4 linked regions of the Homo sapiens genome follow. The protein of the gene in region 4 purifies or fractionates together with the protein of the main gene of each other region. This does not show direct contact. Each region holds a gene or a part of one and is shown on either strand. Other genes may lie near its edges. The genes, in order: LRRC34, TMEM192, FAM171A2 and LILRB3.

Region 1 (8,348 bases), on a different chromosome or scaffold from region 4:
AGGAAGTATGTATGCCTAGACCTCAATTGTGGTTGTTCTTTGGCAGTGGGATTGCAGATTAACATGTATTTTTTTTTAATGTTAGAAATTTCCGGTCGGGCTCAGTGGCTCACCTGTAATCCCAGCACTTTGGGAGGCTGAGGCAGGCTGATCACTTGAGGTCAGGAGTTTGAGACCAGCCTGGCCAACATGGTGAAACCCCGTCTTTATAGCTGGGTGTGGTGGTGTGTGCCTGTAGTCCCAGCTACTCGGGAGGCTGAGGCAGGAGAATCGCTTGAACCCGGGAGGCAGAGGTTGCAGTGAGCCGAGATTGCGCTCCTGCTCTCCAGCTTGGGTGGCAGATCAAGAACCTATCTCAAAAAAAAAAAAAAAAGAAATTTCCAAATTGTCTGGAATAAGTATATTAAATTTATTTTTAAAAAGGTTATTAAAAACTATAAGAAAATTTTGTTTGCTTTCATCTGAAATGTAATGTTCCTCATGTTAAATCTCGTTCTGCAGATCCGTTTAGCAAACTCATTATTCTTCAGAGTGCAAAGGACACTCAGTAAACAACATTTCTGAGATGTAGAGACTTAGAAGAGAAGCCAGCTCCTAAAAAGCTAGGCTGGTTGAGCAATGAGATCTCTGTGCACAAATTTTTAAAAGACATCCACAAAAGGTAGATGTATAGAAAACAAAGACAGTGGCCTGTACTTCTAAGAAAAGTAACAGCATAACTTCCACCCCAGAAGATGTAGGCCTTGCAGAAGATGCTTTTGAGGTATTACTGAGAACAGCAAGGTCATTAAGGAAATCTGCATGTATAACAGAAAGGAGATCTCAACTCCTGCTTTGTGTCTGTCTTCTTAAGAACTTAGGGAAAAGTCACCTTTAGAAAGAGGAAATGGAAGGCTGGGTAGGAGAAGAGCTTCTGTGAGCCAGGCCTCGATTTGGTATGAAGAAATGACAGTTACATTCAAACTTGGGATGGTGTAGAGGGTATCCAAGAAGCTTGTGGGAGTAGGTGCTTTATCAGATCCCTTTTGAGTTAGGTTATTAGATAAAATTGTTTTTATGTGAAGCTATTTTAAGAAACCTTTTCCTCTCGTGGATGCTGAGATACTGAGTTGAAAAAAAAAAAAAAAAAAAAGAAACCTTGAGTCCCTGTAACCCATTAGGGCACAGTGGAAAGAGGTTTTGGAATCAGTTTGATTCTGCACTCTGCCTTTATTAGCTGCATGGTTTTGGACAAAATATACAATTTCTTTGGAAGTCATTTTCCTCAGCTACCAGGCCTGGCACATAATGGAGCTTAGTTCTCCCTTTATGTCACTTCCAACGTAGGGTGCTCACTTGAGCCAGTGTCTGCCAAGCCTCAATGGGTGCTTCAATGGCCCTAGTTCTCCAAACAGCATTTTAATTATCTCTCCCATTCATTATTTTTATTTCTCTTCTCTTTTTCTAACCTTAATTCTGTTTCCTTTTCTTCCCTACCCCCACTATACACACATACAACTCATATATTTGAAAGAGGTAGTTTTTATGGTTTTTTTTAAAGCTTCTAGAATAATTTATATGTGATAGAGGATGCATATATTTTTCAGAATCTCCAGAATCTGGTCTCCAGAAACATTATTCTAATCTGTGTATGGAAAAATCCCAGAAAATTAATCCTTTTATATTGCATATACTCCAAGAAGTGGATGAAGAAATTAAAAAGGGGTAAGAAAGACAAATACTTGATTACATTAATAGTGTTTGCTTATATTCATGTGTGTGAAAATCCTAACATATTGAGTGATTTTATAGCCATTTGAAAATGCTTGGTAAAATGAACATACCATTTGATTCAGGTAAGTAAGTACACGAGCAACACTGTTAGTAGGTCTTAGAGGTGGTATAGTATTCAGGAAAGAGCACTAGACCAGGAGTACCCAAGCTTGGGCTCCAGAGTGATCTTTAACTTCTGTGGGTGGGGTGAATCTTTTTTTTTTGTTTGTGGGCAGGGTGAATCTTTTTTTTTTTTTTTTTTTTCTGAGATGGTGCCTCCCTCTGTCGCCCAGGCTAGAGTGCAGTGGCGTGATCTCGGCTCACTGCAAACTCAGCCTCCTGGGTTCAAGCAATTCTCCTGCCTTGGCCTCCCGAGCAGCTGGGATTACAGGTGCTCGCCACCATGCCCGGCTAATTTTTGTATTTTTTAGTAGAGACAGGGTTTCACCATGTTGGCCAGGCTGGTCTCGAACTTCTGACCTCAGGTGATCAGCCCGCCTTGGCCTCCCAAAGTGCTGGGATTACAGGCGTGAACCACCACGCCTAACCTGAGCTGGGTGAGTCTAAGCAAATCACTGAAGTTTTCAGTGTTATCTATAAAGTGGGGATACTGTTTGTGTGAGTGTGAGTGTGTGTGAGAGAGCTAAATATATGGAATCTTTTAAAGCACTTTGCAGTCTGCAGAATGTTCAGTAGTTTTAAGTTACCTGGTATAAATATACTGTATAAGTCTACTTATTATATGCTTGCTTCCAGTAAATGATATCTGTGATATGACTATTTATACATGAAGGAAACATACTTTTACTTCTTTACTGGGTTTCTATTTCAAAATCTTTTTTTTTTTTTTTTTTTTTTGTATTTTAACAGGCTAGCAGCAGGAATCACATTAAACATTGCTGGTAACAATCGCTTAGTGCCAGTAGAAAGAGTTACAGGTGAAGATTTTTGGATTCTTTCCAAAATTTTAAAGAATTGTCTGTATATTAATGGTATGTTTCCATAAGAATCAATACCTCCTGCTTTTCATTGATCTGATTTTAAGTATTCTTTATAATGAATATCCACTTCTATTCATCTGTGCTTCAGGTTTGGATGTTGGATATAACCTTCTATGTGATGTTGGTGCATACTATGCTGCGAAACTGCTTCAGGTATTATTTTACTACAAAATGTCCTTAGTTCCATTTACAATGAAACCAATTAGTCTAATGACACACACATAAAACACTAGTTTTACCTGATGTCAAGGGTCCTGACTCTGTGCTAGAACACTCGAAATATACTGGAAACCCATTGTGGATTTGGTCTCAATGGAGCCAGTAGCTAGAGCTCCTAAGTTATCTTTTGCAAACTTGTACACCATGATTAAATATATACACCACACATCTTTCAGATTGATCAAAGGTAAATATAGTTTTTTCTTTCATTTATATTGTAATTATATTTTGATTACATGAGAATGATTTTTTTCCTTAATGTAGTTGTTTTTGCTAGGATACAGTTTTTCTTGGTTATAAAGATTTTCTTTGGAGGAAAACACTTATTCAAATAAAGTATATACTGTATGTGTATATGTATATACATGTATGTAAAACTGACCAATTTCCAATAATAATAATGTGTAATAGCTTCTTTTCTCTTATAGAAACAACTTAATCTCATTTACTTAAACCTCATGTTTAATGATATTGGGCCCGAAGGTGGAGAATTGATTGCTAAAGTGCTACATGTAAGCATTTATGTATTTCAAACTAACATTGTATTTGGAAATTCTAACTTCTGATAGCTTGGAACCAACAGTGTCCAATGTTGAAGTGAACTTATTTTAATATTGTAGGAATGTATATTTTTATTATACTTTAATTTATTCAAGTGTAGACATTGCATGAACACTTTTGAAGTCATAGTTTTACTAAGATTTAACTCACATACATAAAATATACCCTTTGAAAGTCTTCAGTGGTTTTTTAAGTATTAATATATTCACAGGGCTGTGCAAGTATCACTACTATCACTATTTTAAAAACATTCTTATCACCCCAAAAAGAAAAGCCCTAAACTCATTAGCAATCCCTCTCCATCTTTTCTACCCCCTGCTCTCCAGCCCCTGGCAGTCACTAACCTACTTCGTCTCTCTATGTATTTGCCTATTGTGGACATTTCATATAAACAGAATCATACAATATGTGGCCTTTTGGGACTGGCTTAATGTTTTCAAGGTTCATCTTGAAAACCCAGTCACAAAGATTTATGTTTTTTTAAGAGTTTTACAGTTTTAGCTCTTTCTTTGATCCATTTTAATTTTTGAATATGGTATGAGGTAGGAATCCAACTTTATTCTTTTGCATGTGTATATCCACGTGTCCTAACACCATTTGTTAAAAGACTATTCTTTCTCCCATTGAACTGTCTTGACAGTTTTGTCCAAAAATCAGCTAACCATCATTACAGGAGTTTATTTCTGTACTCTCAATTCTATTCTTTTAATCTGTATGTCTATCCTTATGCCAGTACCACACTATCTTGATTACTATAGCTTTGTAGTAGGTTTTAAAATCAAGAAATGTGTCCTTGTTCTTTTTTCAGGATTGTGTTGGCTCTTCTGTGTCCCTTGCATTTCCATATGAATTTTAGGTCAGTTAATCAATTTCTGCAAGAAAAGCAGCTGGGAGTTTTTTTTTTTTTTTTTTTTGAGATGGAGTTTTGCTCTTGTTGCCCAGGCTGGAGTGCAATGGCGCGATTTTGGCTCACCACAACCTCCACCTCCTAGGTTCAAGCAATTCTCCTGCCTCAGCCTCCCAAGTAGCTGGGATTATAGGCATGCACCACCATGCCTGGCTAATTTTGTACTTTTAGTAGAGACAGGGTTTCTCCACGCTGGTCAGGCTAGTCTCAAACTCCCGACCTCAGATTATCTGCCCACCTCGGCCTCCCAAAGTGCTGGGATTACAGGCATGAGCCACTTCACCCGGCCAGCAGCTGGGATTTTAATAGGAATTACAGTAAATCTGTAGATCACCTTGGGGAGTATTGCCATCTTAAGTCTTCCAAACCTCGAACATAAGATGTTTCATTTATTTAAGGCCTTTCATTTCTTTCAGCAATGCTCTGTAGTTTTCAATGTGCAAATCTTACATTTCTTTTGTTAAATTTATTCCTAACTTTTTTTTATGCTATTGTAAGTGGAACTGTTGTTCTTAATTTCATTTTTAGGTTGTTCATTGTTAGCATATGGAAATACAGCTGTTTTTGTATATTGATCTTGTGTCCTGCTATGTTGCTGAACTCTTGTGTTAGTTCTAACAGGTTTTTTTGGTGGAATCCTTAGGATTTTCCCTATGCAAGATGGTGTCACATACAGAGTTTCACTTCATTTCCAATTTGTATGGTTTTTCTTTTTGTTTTTCTTGGCTAATTTCTCTGGCTAGAACCTCCAGTACAATGTTAAATAGAAGTGGTGAGAGGACATCCTTTTCTTCTTCCTGATCTCAGAGGGGTTTGAATCGTGATAATTATTTACACTATTATATGTCCTAATAGTTACTCATTAGAATGATGAAATGTCTGTGATTTTGTGAAATATTTATCAAATTATATTACTTTAAAAGTGATATAGGAGGAATGGGGAGTGACTGGTTAATGGTATAGGACCGGCTTCGGGGATGATGAAAATGTTTTGGAACTAGCTACAGGTGATGACTGTGCAATATTGTGAATGTACTAAATGCTACTGAATTGTATACTTTAAAATGGTCAGTTTTATGTTATGTGAATTTCACCTCAATTTAAAAAAGTGAAGTGCTATAATTTTCTTAAGATAAATTTACAGATTTTTCCAGTGAAAGTTTATTAATATATGTTTTATTTACTGGTTATTGCTTGGGCATCTGTTTCTTGGGCATTCTTTCTACTCAACTGTTAAACTAGATTTTTATCTATTATGGTAGATTGAATGTTACCTTTAAGGTATATATCCTCTTCTGGCTGGGCGCGGTGGCTCATGCCTGTAATCCCAGCACTTTGGGAGGCCGAGCTGGGCAGATCACGAGGTCAGATCGAGACCATCCTGGCTAACATGGTGAAACCCCATGTCTACCAAAAATACAGAAAAAAATTAGCCAGGCGTGGTGGTGGGTGCCTATAGTCCCAGCTACTTGGGAGGCTGAGGCAGGAGAATGCTGTGAACCCAGGAGGTGGAGTTTGCATTGAGTCGAGATCACACCACTGCACTCCAGCCTGGGCGACAGAGCGAGACTCTGTCTCAAAAAAAATATATATCGTGTTCTAGCTCCATGAAAATTGGAGTCTGCAAATAGTAATACAGTCTCCTAATTCATGTAATATATAGAATTCTGTGGATTAACAATTATTAAATAAGTTTTTTTTCCTTTTCAGAAGAATCGGACTCTGAAATACCTAAGAATGACTGGAAACAAAATTGAAAATAAAGGTGGAATGTTTTTTGCTGCAATGCTGCAAATTAATTCATCATTAGAGAAATTAGATCTGGGTGACTGTGATCTGGTGAGTAAACTGGTTATGAGAAAATCATCCAGATAGTGGGTCATTAGAGAACAGCTAAATCAGAGTCTTATGAATGATTAATTTTGCCTCTTATGTCTAATATCAGAGAAAAGGTGTTTTTCCCCTAGACATAATAGTGCAGATTATTAATAAAATCAGACTATAGTAAATAACATAGAAAAATACTTAATAAAAATATTCCTAAACTTCCATCTATATAACTCATCTTAAACTGTATGGAATTTTTAGAAAAAGATCATGTTCACTTTAATTAAACAAATATTACTTTATTCATATAATTTTTTACTTTTGAAAATACATTTTAGGCTGCAGTGGCTCACGCCTATAATCCCAGCACTTTGGGAGGCTGAGGCAGGTGGATCACCCGAGGTGAGGAGTCCAAGACCAGCCTGGCCAACATGGTGAAACCCCGTCTCTACTAAAAATACAAAAATTAGTCGGGGCCTGGTGGCGGAAGCCTGTAATCCCAGTTACTCAGGAGGCTGAGGCAGGAGAATTGCTTGAACCAGGAGGTGGAGGCTGCAGTGAGTTGCACTCCAGCCCCTGGGCGACAGAGTGAGACTCTGACTCAAAACAAAAATAAAATACTTTTTAGTAGTTACTTATATTGTAGCACAAAAACTTAAAATGATGATGCTAAAAGCTGCTCTGAAGCTGGGCGACATGACATGCACCTGTAGTCCCAGCTATTCAGGAGGCTGAGGTGGGAGAATCTCTTGAGCCCAGGAGTTTGAGGTTACAGTTCACTACAACCGTGCCTGTGAACATCCACTGTACTCCAGCATGGGCAACATGGTAAGACCCTGTCTCTAAAAATTATTAAAAAAGATAAAAGTCGCTTTGAACCTTCACCTGGCCTGATAATGAAAAATGTGTTTTTTTGCATGTCTTCAAATTCCAGGCTTCACTTTCTCTGACATGCTTTCAAATCTTTAGGCCTACTCTTGGGAACCTGTTGTATAGCCTCAGGTTAATCAATGTGACATGAAAATAAGATGGGCCAGGGGGCTCTCTGGTATAATAGATTCTGAAGGATTAACTTTTTTTTTTTTTGGAGACAGAGTCTCACTCTTGTCACCCAGGCTGGAGTGCAATGGCGTGATCTCGGCTCACTGCAACCTCCACCTCCCGGGTTCAAACAATTCTCCTGCCTCAGCCTCCTGAGTAGCTGGGATTACAGGTGCCTGCCACCACGCCCAGCTAATTTTTTTTTGTATTTTTAGTAGAGACGGGGTTTCATGATGTTGGCTAGGCTGGTCTCAAACTCCCGACCTCAGGTGATCCACCTGCCTCGGCCTCCCAAAGTGCTGGGATTACAGGAGTGAGCCACAGCGCCTGGCCAAGATTAACTTTTTAAGGTGGTAGATGCAGCCAGTGTGGTTCTGGGAAAACATTAATTCGGTACTTATCATCTCCACATACCAGTCATTGTGCTGGACACTAATGATACAACAGTGAATCACATGGCCTCTGCCTCTGCCCTTATGAAACTTATATTTTAGTTGGGGAAACACCAATGAAGAAGTAGAGGAAAGTGCTACAAAAATGACTGAGTACTCTGATAATGGGGAGAAGTAATTCTGCTACAGGAGGGTTGCCTAAGACTTATATTACTAAGGTAATATTTACGAGTTATGAAGGATGAGAAAAAACTCATGGAGAGTGTCCATGTCAGAACCTTCCAGGCAGAGCACCAGCATGCACAGACATTAAGATAGTGCTTCCCTAAGTGTGGCATGGGTAGCATTCTTGGTGCAGAGTGAGGTAATTTTCATACTCATATATTTATTTTTACAGATGCTTTCTGTTTGTTTCAAGGGATTATGGTTTTCCATTTACAGCAGTGATACAAAGTTTTATTTTAAAATAAATATAATTGAAAAAGTGAGTTGATTTAATGGGAAAGTATTAAGTAAATGGTGTAAAGTAAGTTTGGGCGTGGTGGCTCACGCCTGTAATCCCAGTACTTTGGGAGGCCAAGGCAGGCAGATTGCCTGAGCCCAGGAGTTTGAGACCAGCCTCAGCAACATGGGAAAATACCGTCTCTA
Region 2 (6,101 bases), on a different chromosome or scaffold from region 4:
TTTTTTTTTTTTTGAGACGGAGTCTTGCTCTGTCACCCAGGCTGGAGTGCAAGTGGCACAATCTCAGCTCACTGCAAGCTCCGCCTCCCGGGTTCACGCCATTCTCCTGCCTCAGCCTCCCGAGTTGCTGGGACTACAGGCGCCCGCCACCATGCGCAGCTAATGTTTTGTATTTTTAGTAGAGGCGGGGTTTCACCATGTTAGCCAGGATGGTCTCGATCATCTGAGCTCGCGATCCACCCACCTCGTCCTCCCAAAGTGCTGGGATTCCAGGCGTGAGCCACCGCGCCCGGCCATGGCCATGTGTTTTCTAATAGGTTATTTTTATCTTATTCATTTAAATTACAAATGTGGGCTGGGTGTGGTGGCTCACGCCTGTAATCTCAGCACTTTAACAGGAGTTCCAGACCAGCCTGGCCAACCTGGTGAAACCCCGTCTCTACTAAAAATACAAAAATTAGCTGGGCGTGGTGGCAGGCACCTGTAATCCCAGCCACTAGGGAGGCTAAGGCAGGAGAATCGCTTGAACCTGGGAGGCAGAGATTACAGTAAGCAGAGTTTGCGCCACCGTACTCCAGCCTGGGCGACAGAGTGAGACTCCGTCTCAAAAAAAAAAAATTTTTTTTTTCAACAGAGAGAGGGTCTTTTCAACAGGAGGCTGGTCTCCAACTCCTAGGCTCAAGAGATTCTCCAGCAGTGGCCTCCCAAATTGCTGGGATTACAGACGTGAGCCACCATGCCCCGCCCCAATTTGAAATTTCTATCTGAACATCTAGTTCCTATATAATAACAGAAATGTCTTAAATATTTATTAATATGGGACTGGATTAGTAGGAGCAGAGCTCTAAAAGGTTAACAAATATTCCTGAATATATGTTTATATGCAATCGGCAATGGTACCTTTCCAATTGTATTTTAAACTGGTTCTTTTTGGTATGTAAGAAAATTGTTATCTTCATGTTTTACAGTCTGCCACCCTTGCTTTCTAATGGTTTTTCTTAAATTCTCTAGATGTCTAATGGTTAATTCTTAAATTTTCTAGATATTAATATATAACCATCCCATGCACAAATTAATCCTGCTCCTTTATCCAACTGTATTGATGGGCACTTTTGGACAATAGTAAATAGCAGTGATTATAAAAACTAGCAGTCTTATCTCTTTTATTTCTGATATGTTGTTATTTTTTAGTGTATCCTAGACATAAACTTTTAAACAAGACCTTAAAAAAATAATCTCTCAGTTCAGGACATCATAAACAGAAAGTGAAAACAGAGCCCAGGTTACAGCTGGATTACAGGAACAGGCTTTGAGCATGTGTGAGCATAGTTTTTCTACTACAATTCCAGTAGTGAAATCACTGAAGTTAGTGACATTAATTCATCAACGTATATTGAGTGCCTACTTTGTGCCAGACACTGTTCTATGTATGAAGGACACAGTAGTAAGCAAAAGATAGAGCTTACATTCTATCAGGAGACACAGACAAAGTAAACAAGTAAGTTACATGCAGTATTTTCCCCTTATCTACAGGGGAAACATTACAAGACCTCAGGTGATGCCTGGAGCCACAGGTCTGCAGGGGAATCATTGCAAGACCTCAGGTGATGCCTGGAGCCACAGATAGTACTAAACCCTACGAACACTATATTTTTTCCTATCCACACATAACTACAATAAAGTTAAATTTATAAATTAGGCACAGAGAGTAACAACATTAATAACAAAATAGAATAATTATAGCAATATACTATAATAAAAGTTACGTGTGGTGGTGTGGTGCACATCTATAATCCCAGCTACTCAGGAGGCTGACTGAAGTGGGAGGATTTTTTTTTTTTGGGGGGGGGACGGATTCTCACTCTTGTCACCCAGGCTGGAGTACAGCTGTGCGATCTTGGCTCACTGCAACCTCCACCTCCCAGGTTCAAGTGATTCTCCTGCCTCAGCCTCCTGAATAGCTGGGATTACAGACACGTGCCACCACGCCTGGCTAATTTTTGTATTTTCAGTAGAGACAGGGTTTCATCGTGTTGGCCAGGCCGGTCTCCCAACTCCTGACCTCAAGTGATCCACCCACCTCAGCCTCCCAAAGTGCTGGGATTACAGGGGTTAGCCACCACACCTGGCCACAAGTGACATTTGAACAAAGACTTGAAAAAGATATATGGGAGTTGATCCTTCCAGGCAGAGGGAACAGCAACCGCAAAGGTCCTCAGGTAAGAATGTGCTTAGCAATCCAAAAGCCACAGTGTGACCGACGCAGGGTACACAAAGGAAGAGTAGGAGAGAGGAGGTGGGGTGGGGTGGGAAGTGGAGATTTTCTAGGTCCCTGAAGGCCACTGTCCAGGCTTTGGCTTTTACTGAATGAAAAAGGGAACCATCAGAGTAGTGTTTTAGAAGGATATTGTTGGCTGCTTTTTGTGTGTGTGCATGGGGCTGGGGGGTCAGGGTGGAGAGGTAGTGAGAAGCAGAAAGATCACTTAAAAGACTCTTATAGGCCAGGTGTGGTGGCTCATGCCTGTAATCCCAGTACTTTGGGAGGCCAAGGAGGGAGGATCATGAGGTCAGGAGTTCCAGACCAGCCTAGTCAGCATGGTGAAACCTCGTCTCTACTAAAAATAAAAAAAGCACACCTATAATCCCAGCTACTCAGGAGGCTGAGGAAGGAGAATTGCTTGAACCTGGGCAGCGGAGGTTGTAGTGAGCCGAGACTGCGCCACTGCACTCCAGCCTGTGCGACACGAGTGAGACTCCATCTCAAGAAAAAAGAAAGAAAGAAAAAGAAAAAGAAAAACACTATTATAATAGGGCCAGGCACAGTGACTCATGCCTGTAATTGCAGCACTTTGGGAGGCCAAGGCGGGTGGATGACCTGAGGTCCGGAGTTCAAGACCAGCCTGGCTAACATGGTGAAACCCCCTTTCTACTAAAAATATAAAAAAATTAGCTGGGTGTGGTGGTATGTGCCGGTAATCCCAGCTACTCAGGAGGCTGAAGCAAGAGAATCACTTGAACCTGGGAGGCGGAGGTTGCAGTGAGCCCAGATCGCGCCACTGCACTCCAGCCTGGGCAACAGAGCGAGACTCCCTCCCCCAAAAAAAAAAAACAAAACCAAAAAACCGAAAGACTATTATAATAGTCCAGGTGAAGATTATAGTGGCTGGGGAAGTAGCATTGGGGGTGCCAAGAATTGGTTGGACTCTGGGTATGTTTTAAAGGAAAAGCCAGCAGGATTTGCTGATTAACTGTCTATAGGGTTTGAGAGAAAGAGGAGCTGCCATTACAGGGGTGGAAGAGACTGTGGCAGATAGCTCAGCTGGGGACATGTTCTGTTTGAGGTGTTTTTTTATATACCCAAGTAGTGATCTAGAAGGGGCAGTTGGACACATAAGTCTGGAGTTCAGGGAGGAAGGCCTGGCTGAAGATTCACATTTGGAAATTATCAGCTCATAAATTCTATCAAAGTCATGAGATTGTGTGAGACCACCAAGAGAGTGAACGCTGATGGAGAAGCCAAGAGGCCCAGGGGTTGAGCCCTGGAGAATACCAACAAAAAGCAACTTGCAAAGCAGACAAAAGAAGAAGCTAGTGAAGTAGAAGAAAATGAGGAGAATGTAGTGTCCTGGAAGCCAAGCTGAAATAAAGAGTCAAGGAGGAAGTGATCAACTGTGGGGAAAAGAGAGAGATCAGATTGTTACTGTGTCTATGTAGAAAAAGAAGACATAAGAAACTCCATTTTGATCTGTACTAAGAAAAATTGTTTCTGCTTTGAGATGCTGTTAACCTATAACTTTAGCCCCAACCCTGTGCTCACAGAAACATGTGCTGTATTGGATCAGTTTAATGGATTTAGGGCTGTGCAGGATGTGCCTTGTTAACAATATGTTTGCAGGTGGTATGCTTGGTAAAAGTCATCGCCTTTCTCCATTCTCGATTAACCAGGGACACAATGCACTGCGGAAAGCCGCAGGGACCTCTGCCCAAGAAAGCCTGGGTATTGTCCAAGGTTTCCTCCCACTGAGACAGCCTGAGATACGGCCTCGTGGGAAAGGAAAGGCCTTACCATCCCCCAGCCCGACACCTGTAAAGGGTCTGTGCTGAGGAGGAGTAGTGAAAGAGGGAGGCCTCTTTGCAGTTGAGATAAGAGGAAGGCTTCTGTCTCCTGCTCGTCCCTGGGAATGGAATGTCTCGGTGTAAAGCTGACCATTCCCATTCGTTCTATTCTGAGATAGGAGAAAACTGCCCTGTGGCTGGAGGCGAGATATGCTGGCAGCAATACTGCTCTGTTACTCTTTGCTACACTGAAATGTTTGTGTAAAGAGAAACGTAAATCTAGCCTACATGCACATCCGGACACAGTACCTTTCCTTGAACTTATTCATGATACAGATTCCTTTGCTCACGTTTCCCTGCTGACCTTCTCCCCACCTGTTGCCCCGCTACACTCCCCTCGTCAAGATATTAAAAATAATGATCAATAAATACTAACAGAACTCAAGAGACCGGCGCCGGTGCAGGTCCTCGCATGCTGGGTGTGCTGGTCCCCTGGGCCCACTGTTCTTTCTTTATACTTTGTCTCTGTGTCTTATTTCTTTTCTCAGTCTCTCGTCCCACCTGACGAGAAATACCCACAGGTGTGGAGGGGCAGACCCCCCCTCAATCAACTGAGCCAAGTGTTGCTGATAAGTTAAAAGAGGAGACGTATGCATTCATCTCCAATTTAAGCAATGTGGAAGGAAGCTATTGGTGACCTTGCCAAGAACAGTTTCAGTAGAGTAGTAGAGTGAAAGGTGAGACTGGATAGAGAGGAAGGGAGAAGAATTAGAGATAGGCTTCCCTGGTTTGCGAATGAAACAATTTTCCTTAGGAAACCTAGAGAATGTTTTGAGATCTCAAATTTGTGATTGTCACATATTCAAAGTTTGATTCTTCAAGAACTCAAGAGTTTACCAGATGTGAGTTTTGTATTCAAGATTTATTTATTTATTTATTTATTTATTGAGACAGAGTCTCGCTCTGTCACCCAGGCTGGAGTGCAGTGGTGCGATCTCGGCTCACTGCAACCTCCACCTCCCGGGTTCAAGCAATTCTCCTGCCTCAGCCTCCTGAGTAGCTGGGATTACAGGTGCACTTCACTGCACCTGGCTATTTTGTATTTTTAGTAGAGACGGGGTTTCTCCATGTTGGTCAGGCTGGTCTCGAACTCCTGACCTCATGATCCGCCTGCCTCGGCCTCCCAAAGTGCTGGAATTACCGGTGTGAGCCACTGCGCCCAGCCTTAATTTTGTATTTTTAGTAGAAATGGGGTTTCTCCATGTTGGTCAGGCTGGTCTCGAACTCCTGACCTCAAGTGATCTGCCTGCCTTGGCCTCCCAAAGTGCTGGGATTACAGGCGGGAGCCACCACGCCCAACCAGAAGATTCTAGTTGTTAAGAAAAAGAATATCCTGGGACAATAATAAGCAAAGGACTTGAATATACATGTCATAAAAGATTTATAAAAGACCATATAATTTGGAAAAAATGTTTAACACTTCATTAGTATCCAAAGAAATACAATTTGAAACAATGACACACTCATCAGATGGGTCAAGACTTAAATAAGGTAACACCCACTATTGGTAAGGGTATGGAGACCAGGTGAGCTGGCTCATGCCTATAATCCCAGCATTTTGGGAGGCCAAAGCAGGTGGATCACCTGAGGTAAGGAATTCAAGATCAGCCTGGCCAACATGGTGAATCCCCGTCTCTACTAGAAATACAATTTTTTTTCTTTTCTTTCTTTTTTTTTTTTTGTGATGGAGTCTCGCTCTGCTCTGTCGCCAGGCTGGAGTGCAGTGGCACCATCTTGGTTCACTGCAATCTCTGCCTCCCAGGCTCAAGCAATTCTCCTGCCTCAGCCTCCTGAGTAGCTGGGATTACAGGCGCGCACCACCACACCCAGCTAATGTTGCTAATATTTTTGTATTTTTTGTAGAGATAGGGTTTCACCATGCTGGCCAGGATGGCCTCGATCTGCTGACCTCGTGATCTGTCCGCCTCGGCCTCCCAAAGTGCTGAGATTACAGGTGTGAGCCACCGTGCCCAGCCGAAATACAA
Region 3 (7,944 bases), on a different chromosome or scaffold from region 4:
GCTCCCCATCACCATGGGAGGTGGGGCCTCAATCTAAGGCCTTCCCTGTCAGAAGGGGGTTGTGGCAAAAGCCACATTACAAGCTGCCATCCCCTCCCCGTTTCAGTGGACCCTGTGGCCAGGTGCTTTTCCCTATCCACAGGGGTGTTTGTGTGTGTGCGCGTGTGCGTTTCAATAAAGTTTGTACACTTTCTTAACAGTGTCTGATTTGCCGCCCTGCCTGCCCTCCCCAGGGCCCCAGAACAGGGGTTCACGTCCACTGCCAACACTCCCCTCCCCTACCCCACAGAAAGACATACACAGCCTTAACCTCACCAGTTTTATATTTGCTGCTGCCCACATCGGCTGTATCACATTACCCCCTAGTCCCCAGAGCTGTCCCAGCCACCAGCCCTGTGACATCGTAGCCCAGAGATGGGCTAGTCAGCAAGCAGCACCCCCTCCCCTCCCAGGGGTCCACAAAGAACGCCCCCTCCCTTCCCAGCCCTCACACTAGCAGCTGAGGCTGGGTCACCCCTCCTGCTTTCCCACAATAGAGCTTTCTATGTACAGCCACGTCTACACAGGCACTGCTTCCCCCCAGCCCTCCTCCCCGGCACCTCCCCGTGGGGGTCTGGACCCCCCCTCCTCCCCGGCTTGGAGGCAGACACAGGGTCCCTTGCAAGACACGACCCAGCACCAACCACGGAACAGCTCCAAGGCCCCTGGGCCCCTCTCCGGCCTGGGGCTGGGAGCTACGCGCGAGGGCCCCCGCGGGCCCCCGGGGCGCGCACCCTGGGTGCGGGCCCGCGCGGGAGGGGCGGTGCCAGGCCCTGCGCGGGCGCTACTTGACGTTGAACACCATCAGCGGCCGCTCCTCCCGCCGCTGCCACGGGCTCTTCTTGTCTCCCGCCTCGTCGCCCACCTCCGCCCCCAGCTCGTCCTCCGGGCTGGTGAGCGAGTCGCGCCGCAGCTCGCTGGCGCTGCTGCGGGAGCTGTCCCCGCGGCTGCGGCCCCGCCCCCGGGGTACCGTGGCCGCCCGGCCCTCGGGCGCCGCCACCTCGTCCAGCAGCGGCGTCAGCGAGTTGTCCTCCGGAGAGCAGAGGCCCGTGCGGCTCTCGCTGCTGCTGGGCTCCGTGTCCTCGCTGAGCGCCAGGCGCGGGGGCGCGGGCGGCGGCGGCGGCGCGGCAGGCGGGGCGCGCTCCCGCTCCTCCCTCGCGGGCCGGCGGCGCGCGGGCCGCGCCTCGTGGACATCTACGCCCGAGTCCAGGCTGGCGTCGGTGCTGCGTGCCCCGCCGCCCGCCTGCAGGTCGATGTAAGAGTGGCGCACTTGCGAGTTGGAGCGCCCGTCGAGGGACACGAACCAGGCGCGCGGGTGCGGCTTCACGCCCAGTTCCAGCAGCTTCTTCTCGGTCAGGGCCTGCAGCTCCCCGTTGAGCTGCGCCATGGTGGACTCGTTGAATAGCACAGGGATGGTGACTGAGCCACTGACGGGCGCCGCGCGCCCGGCCCCCCAGCCCTCGCCGCCGCCCCCGCCGCCCTCGCCCCCCGGGCCCGAGTGGCCCGGCATCTGCGGGCGCTGGGGGTCGGGCTGGGGAAAAGCGCGCGCCGGGCCGGGTGCCGTGCCCTCCGGCGGGGCCGGCTCGTCGCCCACGCCGGCGGCGCCCGCCTCGCCGCCGAGGCGCACGTAGTGCGCGGGGATCACCAGGGTGGGCATGACGTTGCGGTAGACGTTGTCCTTGAGGTGGTCGATGGAGCCGCAGAAGATGAGCTGCCCCGCCTGGCCCAGCGACGGCGGCCGCGCCAGCTGGTCCACCGACTGCGACAGCAGGAAGTCGGGGGTCTTGCCCTCGGCCGCCCCCTTGTGGCCCAGGTAGTGGTCGAAGGGCGGCGGCGGCGAGGGCGGCTCGTGCAGGAAGGCCGCAGCCCCCGAGGGCCCCCGCCGGTGCTCCTCTAGGCCGGGCTCCAGCCCGCCGGGGCCCTCGGCCGAGCGAGCGCCCTTGAGCCCGGCGCTCTCGCCCCCGCGGGCACCCGAAGGCTCGGCGGCCGGGCGGCTGGCAGAGCGCGGCTTGGTGCGGAAGAAGTCATCCCGGGAGGAGGCCAAGTCCCGGGAGCTGGAGAAGGCCGAGTGGAGGGGGCCTGGAGGCGGAGCCTCGGGGTCCCCCGACGGGGCGGGTTCCAGGGGTCCCCCACAGATGAGGTGGAGCTGGGACATCGAGGTGGCCTGGTCTCGTTTGTTACCGTCAGAGGGCCCCGAGAGCTGCAGCTTGCGGTGCTGTTGCCTCGGCTTCAGGCAGCGCCTCCTGGAAGGGAGGGAGCAGAAGGGGCCGCTCAGGAAAGGGTGAGGGCCAAAGTAGGCCCCGAACCCCCTTAGATGCAAGACAAGAGACGAATATAGTGGAAGAGGTGGGGAGAATGCCTGGGGCGCTCAGGAGAGATGGCGGGGAGCCGCCGTGTCCGTTTGGCGATCCCCTCAGGGTCAACTCTGCACTCCTCTGCATGTAGGATGTGCTGCGAGAACCAGGGATGAGCATCTAAGCTGTCTATGGGTGTGTCCGGCCTGGAGTCCTCTGGGAGAGAGAGCTGGGCTGGTAGGGGCAGTGGCAGATCTCTCTGGAGGGGCCGGGCTGCAAGTCCTTAAGCCCTGCCTCCCCTCCCACCTCCCCGCTGTCTTCAACCACCAGCACCAGCCCTTCAGGTCTTAGCATGTTTGCAGGAAGTCTTTTCCTGTCTGCCCCTTGAGGACCAGAAGTGGATTTTATGCATCTTTGGGGCCCCAGGGCCCGGTACAAGTGCAGGGGAGGGTGAGGGAAGCCCCGTGCTCACCGGCAGTAGTAGATGAGCAGACACAGCAGGATAAGCACCAGCAGGGCCAGGGCTGCCAGGATGGTGAGCAAGAAGATGGTGTGGTAGGTGCCGATGTCCTGGATGCCCGACGTGATGGTGACCAGCCCTGTGCCAGGCGAGGGCTTAGCGTTCAGGTGTAGACACCCTTCCTGCCTTTCAGAAGTCTGCTCTCCCAGCTCCCCTCCTCCGCGGCCTCTACGCCCACTGCCCCACTACTCTTACCAGCCGTGGGGGAGGCCATGGCGGCCACCCAGTACCCCAGCTGGGGGGAGACGAAGGTCCAGTAGAGCTGCCGGCCTTCCTTCCGGATTACACCAGTGCCATTGCGCACCCACAGCCCTGGGAGAGGCAGGGGTTTTGTCACACTTGAGTCGCTCCCACTCAAGTCCCACTTTCTTCTCTCAACTCAAGCACCTGCAGCCCCCTGAGGCACTTACCACTCTTGGGGTCAAATCTCCAGGCTGGAATGCTGGTGCCCACGGTGAGGGCACGAGTCTCGGAGGGCACGGGCAGGGACAGGTGAATGGGGCCTGAGAGCGGCACCTCTGTCCCATTACCTGTCAGCAGGTGCACGCTCACAGCAGTCAGGGGCATCAGCTCCAGCCAGGAGCCATTGCCTGAGGGAAGAGGGTACAGGGCTGAGGGCTGATCCTGAGCCTGGGGAGACCCCATCCGTGCTGGGCACCCAGCCTACCTGAGCTGGAGGCCTCAGTGCCCAGGAAGGCAGGGAAAGCCCGCATTTCCTGCTGGGTGCTGGCAGGCGTAAGTGACGCCCAGAGCTGGCTGTAGGTGGAGCTGACAGGCAGGCGGGCAGCCCGGCGCTGGAACTGCACCAAGGGCTGGGAGCGGGCACCTGGAGGGAAAGAGGGGCTGCAGTGGCTTGACCATGGACAGGGATCCCCAGGGACCAGAGCAGAAACCCATTATCTAAGGAAAAGGGGGACATGAGGTCAGGCCACTTTGGAAGGCCAGGGAGGGTGATGCCTTGGGGAGAAAGCTGGGCAGTCATGGAATGTTAACCTGGAAGGGACATGGACCTGAAATCTCTGTGTGACCCTCAGCAATTTACTTGTTTTAGTAGAAAGTTTCCTTATAGAACCTATAAAATGTTGCGATCCAGATCCTCAAACAGTATTGTCTACTATGTGGCAGGCACCAGGTTAGACACTGGGGGCCCAAAGATGAACGTCTGCTGTGATGGGAATGTTTTCTAGGTGTGCTGCCCATTATGGTACCCACTGGACACACGTGGCTGTTAAGCATTTGAAATGTGGCTAGTGTGACTGAGGAACTGGATTTTTAATTTTTAAAAATGTAATGATTTTTTTCTAGGTGGGTGCAGTGGCTCATGCCTATAATCCCAGCACTTTGGGAAGCCAAGGTGGGTGGATCACCTGAGGTCAGGAGTTGGAGACCAGCCTGACCAACATGGAGAAACCCTGACTCTCTTAAAAATACAAAATTAGCTGGGTGTGGTGGTGCATTCCTGTAATCCCAGCTGCTCGTGAGGCTGAGGCAGGAGAATCACTTGAAACTGGGAGGGGGAGGTTGCGGTGAGCTGAGATTGTGCCATTGCACTCCTGTCTGGGCATCAAGAGCGAAACTCCATCTCAAAAGAAAAAAAAAAAAAAGGCCGAGCGCGGTGGCTCACGCCTGTAATCCCAGCACTTTGGGATTCCAAGGCAGGTGGATCACGAGGTCAGGAGTTCAAGACCAGCCTGGCCAAGATGGTGAAACCCCATCTCTACTAAAACTACAAAAATTAGCCAGGTGCGGTGGCAGGCGCCTGTAATCCCAGCTACTCGGGAGGCTGAGGCAGGAGAATCGCTTGAACCCAGGCAGCAGAGGTTGCAGTGAGCCAAGATCATGCCATTGTACTCCAGCCTGGGCAACAGAGTGAGAATCCATCTCAAAAAAAAAAATTAATGAATTTTTAATTTAATTTACTTCAATTTAATATGTAGCTAGTGGCTACTGCATTAGACAGTTTAGGTCGTGTGTGTGTGTGTGTGTGTGTGTGTGTTGGGGTGGAGGGGACAGACATACAAACAATTCCAATACAATATGGTCACAGCTAACATTTATTAATCTTTAAGCTATGCTGGGCACTGTTCTAAGCAGGTTACCTATATTAACCCCTGCAATTAGGAAAATAGCCCCTGAGCTAGGTATCTATTATCAACCTCATTTTAGAGGTGCAGAAATGGAGGCACAGGGGTTCAGTAACTTGCACGAGGTCACAATCCTCGAGCCCGGATAGAAGCCCAGGCCATCGGGCTCCAGGCCCATCCTCTGCCATGCCATTCCTCCTGCCTTGCTATCCAAATAGAGGGATGCAGAGGACTAGGGGAGCTGGTCTCACTCAGCTCAGGGGAGGCCCTGTGGAGTCTTGGAGGATGTGGAAGACTCAGCCAGGAAAGAAAGAGGGAAAGGACATCCAGGAGGCCTGGCATGAGAAAGGCCCAGAGGCGTGGGGCAGAGGGCGGCCCGGGCTCTGGAGGGTGCAGTCAGCTCTGAGATGGCACCTGGGCTTGGTACTGAAAGCAGTAGGCGCCATGCAGGGGCTTCAAGCTAGGGGGCCACAAAGGGTCCACTGGTATTTTAGAAACCTGCAGGGGCACTTAGAAGCTTGGGATCAGAGTGACGAAGGTGAGCAAACAAGAGCAGCTTGGTGAGGCCGGGTGAAGTGACTCGCGCCTGTAATCCCAGCACTTTGAGAGGCAGAGGCGGGTGGATCACCTGAGGTCAGGAGTTCGAGACTAGCCTGGCCAACATGGCAAAACCGTCTCTACTAAAAATACAAAAATTAGTCTGGCGTGGTGATGGGTGCCTGTAATCCCAGCTACTCAGGAGACTAAGGCAGGAGAATCCCTTGAACCCAGAAAGCAAAGGTTGCAGTGAGCCGAGGTTATACCACTTCAGCCTGGGCAACAGAGCAATACTCCATCTCAAAAAAAAACCCAACAACAACAACAACAAAAACTAGCTCCATGACAAGGGCTCAAGCTGAGACTACAAACTGGGATGGGGTTCCTCAAACTCCGAAACCCACCATGGCCCTCTAAGCGGAATGGAGCCCCCAAACCCTCACTGTCCTCTACTACCCTCCACCTGATGTCTCCCCCTGGCCTTCCTCTCCAGTGGAGGTGCCTCTGCTTCCCCTTCACTCCTGAGTCGAGGGCTGACTGCTCCGTTCGACAAGCTCTCACCCAGCCAGGTCCCCTCGCAGGTTAGGGCCGTCTCAGCACTGAAAGCAGCTGCCCTCCACTCCACTGCCCTGCCTGCTCTGGAACTATTTCAGGGCTTGCAATGATCTGTCTTCCTACTTGTCTGTGAACGTCCAAAGGCAAAGAGCGGGTCTTCTTCCTCACCGTGGTTCCCAGCACCAGCCACAATGCCTGGCACAGCCTAGGAGTTGAAGTAAGTACTAGCTGAGCGAGACCAAAAGCCTGGGGGTAGACCAGGAACTGCAGGCTTGCTCTGGGCCTTGCACTTCCTGTGCACCTGTGCATCCAGCAGGTGCACAACAAATCTGTGTAGACCCATTGAAGATAAAGGTGGCAGGGAAGGTAGGAATAGATGGAGAATAGAAACCACGAGAAGCCCCGATAACTGTAAACATTTATTGAACACCTTCTGTACTGTGTTTTTTCACTTTGTGATTTCTTACTCCAATTTGATGATGTAGGCACTAACCTTCCACGTCTTACAAATGAGCAAATTATGGCTCAGAGAGGTGAAGTGACTTGCCCAAGGACACCCAGCTAATATAGGACAGTGGAGGTCTCTACACCTAGGTCAGGGGAAGGAAGAAGAGTTGGCGTGGGTGAGGGGGAGCCTTACCGGGAGAGCCTAGGAGAATGTGCACCAGGTCCTCATAGAGGATGAGCGTGGCCGGCCGCTCAGGGAGCAGGTAGAGGCTGACAGACGCATACACTGCGGGAGGGATGGCCGGTCAGCTCCAGGAAAACCCACCCCCTACCCCCCAGCCAGGCACCCCCTCCATCTGAGTCCCAGAGGCTTCACCCTCCCTCAGCCCCCTCTGTGTACCCCAGCCCAGGCAGCAGCTGCTGGAAAGCCTCCCCCTCCACCCCCAAGGAGACTATTTTGGGAAGGGGCTGATGGAGGGTCAGCTGCTGTCCCCCCCCTCCACCTGCCCCTGCACTCACAGGGCAGCTTGTCAACACGCCAGGGCACAGAGTTGGTGAGGAAGCCAGGGCGGGCAGCAGTGACCAGCACCCAGGTGCCCAAGCGATAACTGAGGGGCAGGGTGGCCACACCCTCTGAGTCTGTGGTGCCAGCTGCCAGCAGAGTCCGGTTCCCAAACACATCCACTGAGGCCCGGGCCAGGGGCACCAGCTCCCCGCTCACATACACCTGCACCTTGATCAGGATCTCTGTGGGCAAGATGGGGCAAAGGGAGTGAGGACGAGGGAGGGGGAAAGAGAACTGGGGGGAGCCCCAAGATCAGAGGAAGGAGCTGTGTTTGAGAGAGTCTTTTGGGCTGAGGCTAGAGAAGGCATGATTTAAGACCCAGCATTCACAGAGCACTCACTGAAACCTCCTATCAGCCCATGCCGGAGGTGGGACTATTCCTGTATTTCATCGTCTAACACATGCGCTGTGTCACATTTTCACAATTCTAAACTCGGGCTATGCCTATGATTGATGATGCCATCGTTATAACTGGCAGCATTTCTTCCTTTCTTACTGGTACCTGAAATCATGGTGCATCTTACAGTCAGTGGTGTATTGGATTTGATAATATATGCTCTTAGTCCATTTTACAGATAAGGAAACTGAGGCTTAGAGAGTTTAGATACTTGGACTACAGCTAAGTGGAGATCTGGGATCCAGACCTGGCAGTCTGCCTCTAGAAGCGACATTCTTAACCCCGGGCCTGGGGAGAGGAGAAGGACAGGAGGGCTGAGAAAGGCTAAGTAAAGCTGGGTCCGCAGGCGGAGAGGAGAAGGGTCAAGATTCAGCAGTTTGAAAGGGAGGATGGAGGCTAGGGCAGAGTTTGGGGTCTTGGGAAAAAATTGACAGGGGACACTAGGAAACTGGTCATTCCCATCATTCATCCTTTTCCCAGAATCCTTTGCACAAGCCTGTTTCCCT
Region 4 (9,238 bases):
GCCTCACCCTCCTGAGTAGCTGGGATTACAGGCATGCGCCACCTCACTTGGCTAATTTTTGTATTGTTAGTAGAGGTGGGATTTCACCATGTCGGCCAGACAGGTCTTGAATTCCTGACCTCAGGTAATCTGCCCGCCTCAGCCTCCCAAGGTGCTGGAATTAAAGGTGTGAGCCACCAATCCCAGCCAGTTGAATTTCTTTAATAAAAATAGGAAATGTTACACTATATATTTGTTCTTGAGTAAATTTTGGTAGTTTGTATACTTCAAGATATTTTCTATTAAATGTGAGTTGTAAAACATCTTAGCATAGATTCCTAGTTTTGCTTCACTAGTCCTTTTATGTCTGTAGGATGGGTAGTGGTGCCTCTTTCCATCTTGATTTGGTAATTGTTGTGCTCCCTCTCTCTCTCTCACTCTCTTACTTTACATCCTACAAACGTTCATATGTTATAATTTCATTGACATTTTTCGTTAATGTTCTATCAATTTAATGTTGTGTGATTCTATAACCCATGAATATTTGTTTTTGCTTTTGCGATGGAGTCTTACTCTCTCACCCAGGCTGGAGTGCAGTGGCACAATCTCGGCTCACTGCAACTTCCACCTCCTGGGTTCAAGTGAATCTCCCGTCTCAGCCTCCCGAGTCATTGAAAATACAGGTGCATGCCACCACACCCAGCTAATTTTTGCATTCTCAGTAGAGACAGCATTTCACCATGTTGGCCAGGCTGGTCTCAAAGTCCTGACCTCAAGTGATCCACCTGCCTCAGCCTCCCAAAGTGCTGGGATTACAGGCATGAGCCACCACATCCAGCCTATAACCCATGAATATTTAGAATGTTATTTGTTTCCAAAGTATTGCTTTTTCTCTAAATGTCTTCTTATTGTTGGCTGCTAATTTAATTGAACTTCTAATCAGGAAACGTTACCTGTAGTAACAGTTTGGATGCTTACTTTGCTGTGTAAAAATGATAGAGACGGCTGGGCACAGTGGCTCTCACCTGTAATCCCACCACTTTGGGAAGCTAAGGCGGGTAGATCAAGAAGTCAGGAGACCGAGACCATCTGGGCCAATATGGTGAAATCCCGTCTCTACTAAAAATACAAAAAAATTAGCTGGGTGTGGCGGCGCACGCCTGTAATTCTAGCTACTCACAAGCCTGAGGCAGGAGAATCGCTTGAACCCGGAAGGTGGAGATTGCCGTGAGCCGAGTTCGTGCCACTGCACTCCAGCCTGGCGACAGAGCTACACTTCGTTTCAAAAAAAAAAAAAAGATAGATATTTCTGATCAATATGTTTTCATAAATAAGTATTCCTGGCCTCGCACAGTGGCTCACACCAGTAATCCCAACACTTTGGAAGGCCAAGGTGGGCAGATCCCGTGAGCCCAGGAGTTTGACACCAGCCTGGGCAACATAGCGAAACCTCGTCTCTACAAAAAAATACATATTAAAAAAATTTAGCCAGGCAAGGTGGCATGATCCTGTAGTCCCAGCTACTCAGGAAATGGTTGTGGCAGAATCACCTAGGCCTCAGGAGGTCGAGGCTGCAGTGAGCTGGGATAGTGCCATTGTACTTCAGATGGAGCAACAGAGAGAGACCTTGTTTCAAAAAAATATATATAAAGAAATATGCATTCCCACTTTGTTGCTATATGTATATTCCAGAAACGTTTCTATACAAATTTACATAATATATAAACAATCGAAACATCATATTTGCGCATGAGATTGAACATTTGTGCCATGCAACCCTCACGAATATTTTGTTCACTTAATCTATCAAAGTCTGATCAATATTTCTTCAAATCCTCCACTGTGTCTCAATTGATGCTTTGTAAATTTTAAGGACATGTGGTTGGTTGAGTGAAAGTGTATAACTTTCTCTTCTTCACAGATTGCTGATTTAAAAGTATGAAATATCCGGGCGTGGTGGCTCACGCCTGTAATCGCAGCACTTTGGGAGGCCGAGGCAGGCGGATCACGAGGTCAGGAGATCGAGACCACGGTGAAACCCCGTCTCTACTAAAAATAGTAAAAAATTAGCCGGGCGTGGTGGCGGACGCCTGTAGTCCCAGCTACTCGGGAGGCTGAGCCAGGAGAATGGTGTGAACCCGGCAGGCGGAGCTTGCAGTGAGCCGAGATCGCGCCACTGCACTCCAGCCTGGGTGACAGAGCGAGGCTCCGTCTCAAAATAAAATAAAATAAATAAATAAATAAATAAAAGTGTGAAATATCATCTATTTTTCTTTTCAAAGGCTGTTTGTGTTAGTATTGGTTTGCTATTGCTGCCATAACAAATTACACGTATTGAGCAGCTTCAGCAACACAAACTCATTATCTCACAGTCTTTTAGGACAAAATCAAGGCCATAACGTGGCTGCATTCCTTTCTGGAGGCTCCAGAGACGCGAATCCATTTCCTTGCTCTTTCAGATTCTTAGTAGAAATGCATATACTTGTATATACACAGATTACAGATAGATCTATGCTTATTCGTTTTTTGTATGTACTGTTGACTTATTCACAGTAGCATCTCATCTTCTCCATTTGGGGTTCATTATTCCACTCCCTGATTTACATTGTTTAGTATTGCTTTCAGAAAGAGCCCAGATGCAAACATGTCTGCAGCCTTGCAGCTCAAGCGATGCCTGCTTCTCTGTCTCTGTCTCTCTCCGTGTGTGTGTGTGTGTGTCTCCCTCTCCCTCTCTCTCTCTGTCTCAATCTCTCTCTGTCTCTCCGTCTCTCTCTGTCTGTCTCAATCTCTCTCTTTCTCTGTTGTTATCATAGTACCTGATAAAAGGACACTGAAAACGCCCTCCTTATTCCTCATAAGGCCACCGCCTGACCTGACGGGTCACGAGTGCCCCGAGTCTCCTTATGTTCTAGGATTTATCCACAGCTGACACTGCAACTCGGTCCTTTAATAATAACTAGGCCAGGTTGCGGTGAGCCGAGATCGCGCCATTGCACTCCAGCCTGGGCAACAAGAGCGAAATTGCATCTCAAAAGATAATAATAATAATAATAATAAATAATTATAATAGTAATAATTAGGCCCAGCACAGGAACTCTCTCCTCACAGTTAAACGCTTGTGGTTGTTTCTCCTGTATCTTCTGGGGCTGCTGTTTGCTCTTTGGAACTCCAGTCCCGATGAACTTGTCATTCATTCAAGGGTAATTTACATTTTCTCTGGTAGTTTTATGATTATTTTAAATTAATGCCTCATGGTTTTCACTTTACCATGATCGAGATATTCAATTTAGTTATAAACTGATGTTTTCTCTTCAGTTCTGTAAAAATTTCAACCATTAGCTCTTCATGCATATCATGAACTAACATCCTTCTTCCTTCTTTCATTCTGAAACCGTGACAGACACGTTCTTTCTTCTCATTCAACTTCGTGTATATATCAATATTTTCTATTGTTCAATTTCTGTTCTTTCCATGATACAGTCTGGAAAATTTCATGAATATTTTATCCCAATGTATATATTTATTATTTCAGCTGTCTTGCCCTGGATTAAATTATGCTTTGATTTTGTTATGTTTGCATAGTAGGTATATATGGTTAGTAAATTGCTTTTTTTTTTGAGACACAGTTTCGCTCCTGTTGTCCCAGCTGAAGTACAGGGGCGCAATCTCAGCACACAGCAGCCTCCATCTTCCAGGTTCAAGAGATTCTCCTGCCTCAGCCTCCCGAGTAGCTGGGATTACAGGCACTCACCACCACGCCCAGATAATTTTTTGTATTTTTAGTAGAGATGGGGTTTCACCATGTCACCCAGGCTGGTCTCGAACTCCTAGCCTCAAGTGATCTGCCCGCCTCCACCTCCCAAAGTGCTGGGATTACAGGCATGAACTACCATGCCCAGACATAAATTCCTTTTTAATGGCGTTAATTTAATATAGTTTTTCACCTTCACGATGTCTGTCTAATGCATTTCAACAACTGTCTATTTTGTCCTCATACGGTTGTCATTCCTGTGGGGCGGCTCCTCCCACGCACCTGGCCTTTCATAAAGGGTTTCTCCCACGGCTGTCCAGGCATCAGCCTGATGAAGGGGATTGTTGCCGCTGCTCCTGCCCCACTCCCCCAAACTCAGTGTCAGCTCAAGATTGTGCCCAGCAGCGATGGGACCAACGCCAGCCTCACACTCACCTGTGGGGCAGACGCCCATGTCTGACCACCGTGGATCGAATCTGTTTCTCACACACAGGGGAGGGGCTGAGCGCTGACCGTGGCCTCCAGTGAGTGAGCAGAGACCCCCCAGCGCCTGTCCACACACACAGGGGAGGGGGAGCCACCGCTTCCAGCCTCACCCAGAGCCCTGACCCCTCCCTGCCTGGGAGGACGTGGGGTTCCTCTTCTGTCCCACATGGAGGTGGGAGCCTCCTCCTCCCTAATGACGCTCGGTGGTCCCAGACACCTGTGGCCACTCAGCATTGAACTCTGCTCATGGAAGGGGATGCGTCTCAATGTGAGGAACTGTTTTTCCTCTTTCTCTGCCTGTGGCTGTGATGATCTGCATATTTCAGACGTATCACAAGGAGAATTTCATGGTATTTGGAGCCGATGTGGGCTCTTGAGTGGGGGCGTCAATCATCCTCCTCGACTGTGGAGCCCAGCACCAGGATCCTCTCCCGTCCCCACCCTCCTGTCTGAACTGGTCTGGAAATTCACCATGGCTGAGCCTCCCATGTCCTGGGCACCACTGACCCCCACAGCCACTGTGATGAGTGGGGTTCATGACAGCAGGCTCAGAGGTGACATTCATGTCCAAAGTCACATAAACCCTAGATGATAATCAGGAATTAAATACAAATCAGCTCACCTTCCCCAGAATCAGATTATAGATTACAATGAAACATATATATATATATTTCTCTTTATCCCCTCTATTTCTCCTTTTTAGACAGGATCTTGCTCTGTCGCCCAGGCTGGAAGGCCAAGGGGTGATCATAGCTCCCTGAAGCCTCCGCCTCCCGGGCCCAAGTGATCCTCCCACCTCAGCCTCCTGAGTAGCTGGGACCACAGGCATGAGCCTCCATGCCCAGCTCACTTTTTTCTTTTCTGTAGAAACAGGGTCACAGTCTGTTTCCCAGGACTGTCTGAAGCTCCTGGCCTCAAGCCATCACCCGCCACAGCCTCCTGAAGTACTGGGATTCCAGGCATGAGCCACCACGGTAGACCCTGCATTTCTCTGTGCTCACTGCCACACGCAGCTCAGCCTGGACTACACAGCCAGGTGTCAGGTGCGTCTCTGCTGATCTGAGTCTGCCTGCAGCATGGACCTGGGTCTTCCCTGAAGCATCTCCAGGGCTGGAGAGACGACTGCCATGGTAAGGACCCCGTAACGCTGAACTGATGGACGAGCTGAAGGAGGGAGGGAGACCCCATGGGGAGGCTCTGAGAGGGAGGAGGAGCCCACGGTCACCCTCGCCTGAAAGGGGCTGACTCAGGAAGGCACCAGGTCTATTTGCGGCTGTGTCCCCGTCCTCAGTGAGATAAAGATAAATCAGGCAGACAGTGGCCCGGGGGCAGGGAGACCCCATTTCTCTCTGAAATGCCTGCAGAGAGCCTGGTGCCTGCCCCCACTTCAGCCCTGGGGAAATCAGAGCCAGGTTCTTGGGGTGGCAGTTCCTCTTCCTGTGGGCTGAGGATGAGACAACCCCATGACAAGAAGGACCCAGCCTCCGAGCGGCCACACCCTGTGTGTCTCTCTGTCCTGCCAGCACTGAGGGCTCATCCCTCTGCAGAGCGCGGGGTCACCGGGAGGAGACGCCATGACGCCCGCCCTCACAGCCCTGCTCTGCCTTGGTGAGATTTCAAGATGGGGAGGGGGAGATCCGAGTCTTGGAGGAACCCCACCCCACACACAAGCCCTGGTCCATCAGGAGACCTCAAAAGCTCAGGAGGCACCCGGGCGGGGACCTGCTCAGGCTTCAGGGCAAATGCCTCACAGGGAACTCTCTTCCAGGGCTGAGTCTGGGCCCCAGGACCCGCATGCAGGCAGGTGAGTCTGTCCCCAGCTGTCCCAGGTCCCTACTCCTCACTGGGACAGGGGGCCACCCATGGGCAGCTGGGGGAGGAGACAGTAGTTCTGGGTGACTGATGGGGATGATGGGGAAGTCCTGGGGCTGGGAGCTGGGATCTGAGCGTGGGGATGTCTTGGGATCCAGCCTCTGATTTCCATCTAGGGCCCTTCCCCAAACCCACCCTCTGGGCTGAGCCAGGCTCTGTGATCAGCTGGGGGAGCCCCGTGACCATCTGGTGTCAGGGGAGCCTGGAGGCCCAGGAGTACCAACTGGATAAAGAGGGAAGCCCAGAGCCCTGGGACAGAAATAACCCACTGGAACCCAAGAACAAGGCCAGATTCTCCATCCCATCCATGACACAGCACCATGCAGGGAGATACCGCTGCCACTATTACAGCTCTGCAGGCTGGTCAGAGCCCAGCGACCCCCTGGAGCTGGTGATGACAGGTGAGAGGACACTCTGGGGTCCCAGCCCCAGGCTCTGCCCTCAGGAAGGGGGTCGGCTCTCAGGGGCGTCTCCCTCTCACAGCCCAGCCCTGGGGATGATGTGGGAGGTGGGAGCCCCATTTAACACGGTGCCTCTTTCTCTCCTAGGATTCTACAACAAACCCACCCTCTCAGCCCTGCCCAGCCCTGTGGTGGCCTCAGGGGGGAATATGACCCTCCGATGTGGCTCACAGAAGGGATATCACCATTTTGTTCTGATGAAGGAAGGAGAACACCAGCTCCCCCGGACCCTGGACTCACAGCAGCTCCACAGTGGGGGGTTCCAGGCCCTGTTCCCTGTGGGCCCCGTGACCCCCAGCCACAGGTGGAGGTTCACATGCTATTACTATTATACAAACACCCCCTGGGTGTGGTCCCACCCCAGTGACCCCCTGGAGATTCTGCCCTCAGGTGAGGGAGCCACGGCCTTGTCTAACACACTTTCGGGGCAGCTGACAGGTTGTGGGGAGTTTGGCTGGTGACTGAATCTGGAAAGGACCCAGAGTGATGTGTTGAAGGACGGGCTGAAGGCATGAGGGAGACCCCATGGGGAGGCTCTGACATGGGAGGAGGAGCCCTTGACCACGTTCACCTGGAAGGGGAGGACTCAGGAAGGCATCGGTGTGTTTGCTGTGAGGTCCCAGCTCTCAGGGAGAGGAGGAAAGATCAGGCACAGTGGCCAGGGCTAGGGAGACCCCACTCCTCTGAAATGACTCCAAGACAGCCCCGGGTGAGAAGGAGGCCCTGGGGTCAGAGACTCAGAGCGTGAGAGACAGTGAGACCTGCAGGGCCAGGACGGGAGAAGGAAGGGGCGTGGGAGGAACCAGCCCTCTCAGTCCTGGCTCCTCTTTCCCTCCAGGCGTGTCTAGGAAGCCCTCCCTCCTGACCCTGCAGGGCCCTGTCCTGGCCCCTGGGCAGAGCCTGACCCTCCAGTGTGGCTCTGATGTCGGCTACGACAGATTTGTTCTGTATAAGGAGGGGGAACGTGACTTCCTCCAGCGCCCTGGCCAGCAGCCCCAGGCTGGGCTCTCCCAGGCCAACTTCACCCTGGGCCCTGTGAGCCGCTCCTACGGGGGCCAGTACAGGTGCTATGGTGCACACAACCTCTCCTCCGAGTGGTCGGCCCCCAGTGACCCCCTGGACATCCTGATCACAGGTGAGGAGCCCAGCGGGTTCAGTCAGGGACCCAGGCTCTGCACAGGCCCTGCCGGGGGAGCCCAGGTGGTGATGGCCGGGATGAGGGGTGGGGGTCCCAAGGGAGGGAGAGACAGACAGAGACAGGGGATGGGGGGAGGGGAGACTCAGAGAAAACAGGGACAGAGACACTGAGGGTCCCAGGGAGAGGCCTGGGGAGGTGTCAGCTCAGAGCAAGGTGGGGCAGCCCCTCACCCATCCTTCTTCTCTCCAGGACAGATCTATGACACCGTCTCCCTGTCAGCACAGCCGGGCCCCACAGTGGCCTCAGGAGAGAACATGACCCTGCTGTGTCAGTCACGGGGGTATTTTGACACTTTCCTTCTGACCAAAGAAGGGGCAGCCCATCCCCCACTGCGTCTGAGATCAATGTACGGAGCTCATAAGTACCAGGCTGAATTCCCCATGAGTCCTGTGACCTCAGCCCACGCGGGGACCTACAGGTGCTACGGCTCACGCAGCTCCAACCCCCACCTGCTGTCTTTCCCCAGTGAGCCCCTGGAACTCATGGTCTCAGGTGAGGGCGCTGACCCCGTCCTCTCTGAGCTCAAAGGCTCAGCTCCGGCCCAGGCCCCCAGGAGAGCTCTCGGCTGGGATGGACCGAGGGAGGCTGTGAGGGAGGCTTAGCCAGAGGGCACCCAGCCCTCAGAGGGGAGGAGGCCAACAGGGGTTCTCCTAGGCGTGGCCACCCGTTCTCCCCTGCCTGGCATGCAGAAGGCACCAGGTGGGCAGAGAGATGGTTCCAGGGAATCCACTGGGCGGAAGCAGGAGAGTGGGAGTGGAAGGGTGCACTCCATGGACGGCCCCCGCCCCTCACCCGCCTCCCGTGCTCCTTCCAGGACACTCTGGAGGCTCCAGCCTCCCACCCACAGGGCCGCCCTCCACACCTGGTGAGTCACTGAGGCCTCTTGGGGAGCGCCGCCTCCCCCAGGGCAGTCTGAGTCTCCCAAAGGATCCCACTCCCCTCCCCTCAAGGACGGGCTTGTGTCCCAGGGGCTCTGAGGCTGGGCTGGTGAGGGGCGGGGGTCGAGGCAGAGGGAGATGTTGGGGCCCAGCCAGGAGGAGGAGCCGGGCTGATGTGGGGGGCAAGACAGCCCCAGCCTTCACCTCCCTGTCCTGACCCAGGAGGTCCTGAGGACCAGCCCCTTAACCCCCCAGGGTCAGGCCCTCAGAATGGTGAGTGAGGGGCTCTGAGTGGGAGATGGGCGGGGTCCAGGGGAGGCAGGGGTGGGTTCTGTCCTAGGTTCAGGCTCCTCTGGAGGTGGTGATGTGGACAGGCCCCTCCCCTGCCTGGGCCTCAGTTTCTCCAAGTGTAAAGGAGAGAGGCCTGTGGGTGGGAAAGTTCCTTTCAGCTCTGACCCCCAGCTGTGACCTCCTGGGAGAGGAGGCCTCCCAGGGAACCTCCCAGACCCGATTCCACAGGGGCCTGTCCCGTCCCACCTGCAGCAGTGACGGTGACCTGGGGCAGGGGAGGGGAGCAGGGCCGTGGTTCAGGACGGTCAGGCTCTTTCCCTGC

The links.
Region 1: the proteins of LILRB3 (region 4) and LRRC34 purify together in Homo sapiens (affinity purification with mass spectrometry, with the first as the bait; 2 studies listed by BioGRID). This does not show direct contact.
Region 2: the proteins of LILRB3 (region 4) and TMEM192 purify together in Homo sapiens (affinity purification with mass spectrometry, with the first as the bait; 2 studies listed by BioGRID). This does not show direct contact.
Region 3: the proteins of LILRB3 (region 4) and FAM171A2 purify together in Homo sapiens (affinity purification with mass spectrometry, with the first as the bait; 2 studies listed by BioGRID). This does not show direct contact.

The regions. Positions count from the first base shown.
Region 1 is NC_000003.12:169,801,984-169,810,331, reverse strand, and holds part of LRRC34 (leucine-rich repeat-containing protein 34), read left to right. Parts: intron 1-1,586; coding exon 1,587-1,704; intron 1,705-2,622; coding exon 2,623-2,744; intron 2,745-2,841; coding exon 2,842-2,906; intron 2,907-3,400; coding exon 3,401-3,484; intron 3,485-6,150; coding exon 6,151-6,279; intron 6,280-8,348. UniProt on the Homo sapiens protein: Highly expressed in stem cells where it may be involved in regulation of pluripotency. In embryonic stem cells (ESCs), important for normal expression of the pluripotency regulators POU5F1/OCT4 and KLF4.
Region 2 is NC_000004.12:165,069,462-165,075,562, forward strand, and holds the end of TMEM192 (transmembrane protein 192), read right to left. Parts: 3' UTR 1,147-6,101; downstream 1-1,146.
Region 3 is NC_000017.11:44,352,910-44,360,853, forward strand, and holds the end of FAM171A2 (protein FAM171A2 precursor), read right to left. Parts: intron 7,224-7,944; coding exon 6,996-7,223; intron 6,763-6,995; coding exon 6,670-6,762; intron 6,197-6,669; exon of another isoform or gene 6,036-6,196; intron 3,680-6,035; coding exon 3,521-3,679; intron 3,444-3,520; coding exon 3,264-3,443; intron 3,166-3,263; coding exon 3,049-3,165; intron 2,933-3,048; coding exon 2,806-2,932; intron 2,283-2,805; coding exon 824-2,282; 3' UTR 306-823; downstream 1-305.
Region 4 is NC_000019.10:54,219,529-54,228,766, reverse strand, and holds the start of LILRB3 (leukocyte immunoglobulin-like receptor subfamily B member 3 isoform 2 precursor), read left to right. Parts: upstream 1-5,759; 5' UTR 5,760-5,790; coding exon 5,791-5,824; intron 5,825-5,984; coding exon 5,985-6,020; intron 6,021-6,204; coding exon 6,205-6,489; intron 6,490-6,636; coding exon 6,637-6,939; intron 6,940-6,980; exon of another isoform or gene 6,981-7,149; intron 7,150-7,387; coding exon 7,388-7,684; intron 7,685-7,936; coding exon 7,937-8,239; intron 8,240-8,561; coding exon 8,562-8,612; intron 8,613-8,847; coding exon of another isoform or gene 8,848-8,898; intron 8,899-9,162; exon of another isoform or gene 9,163-9,238.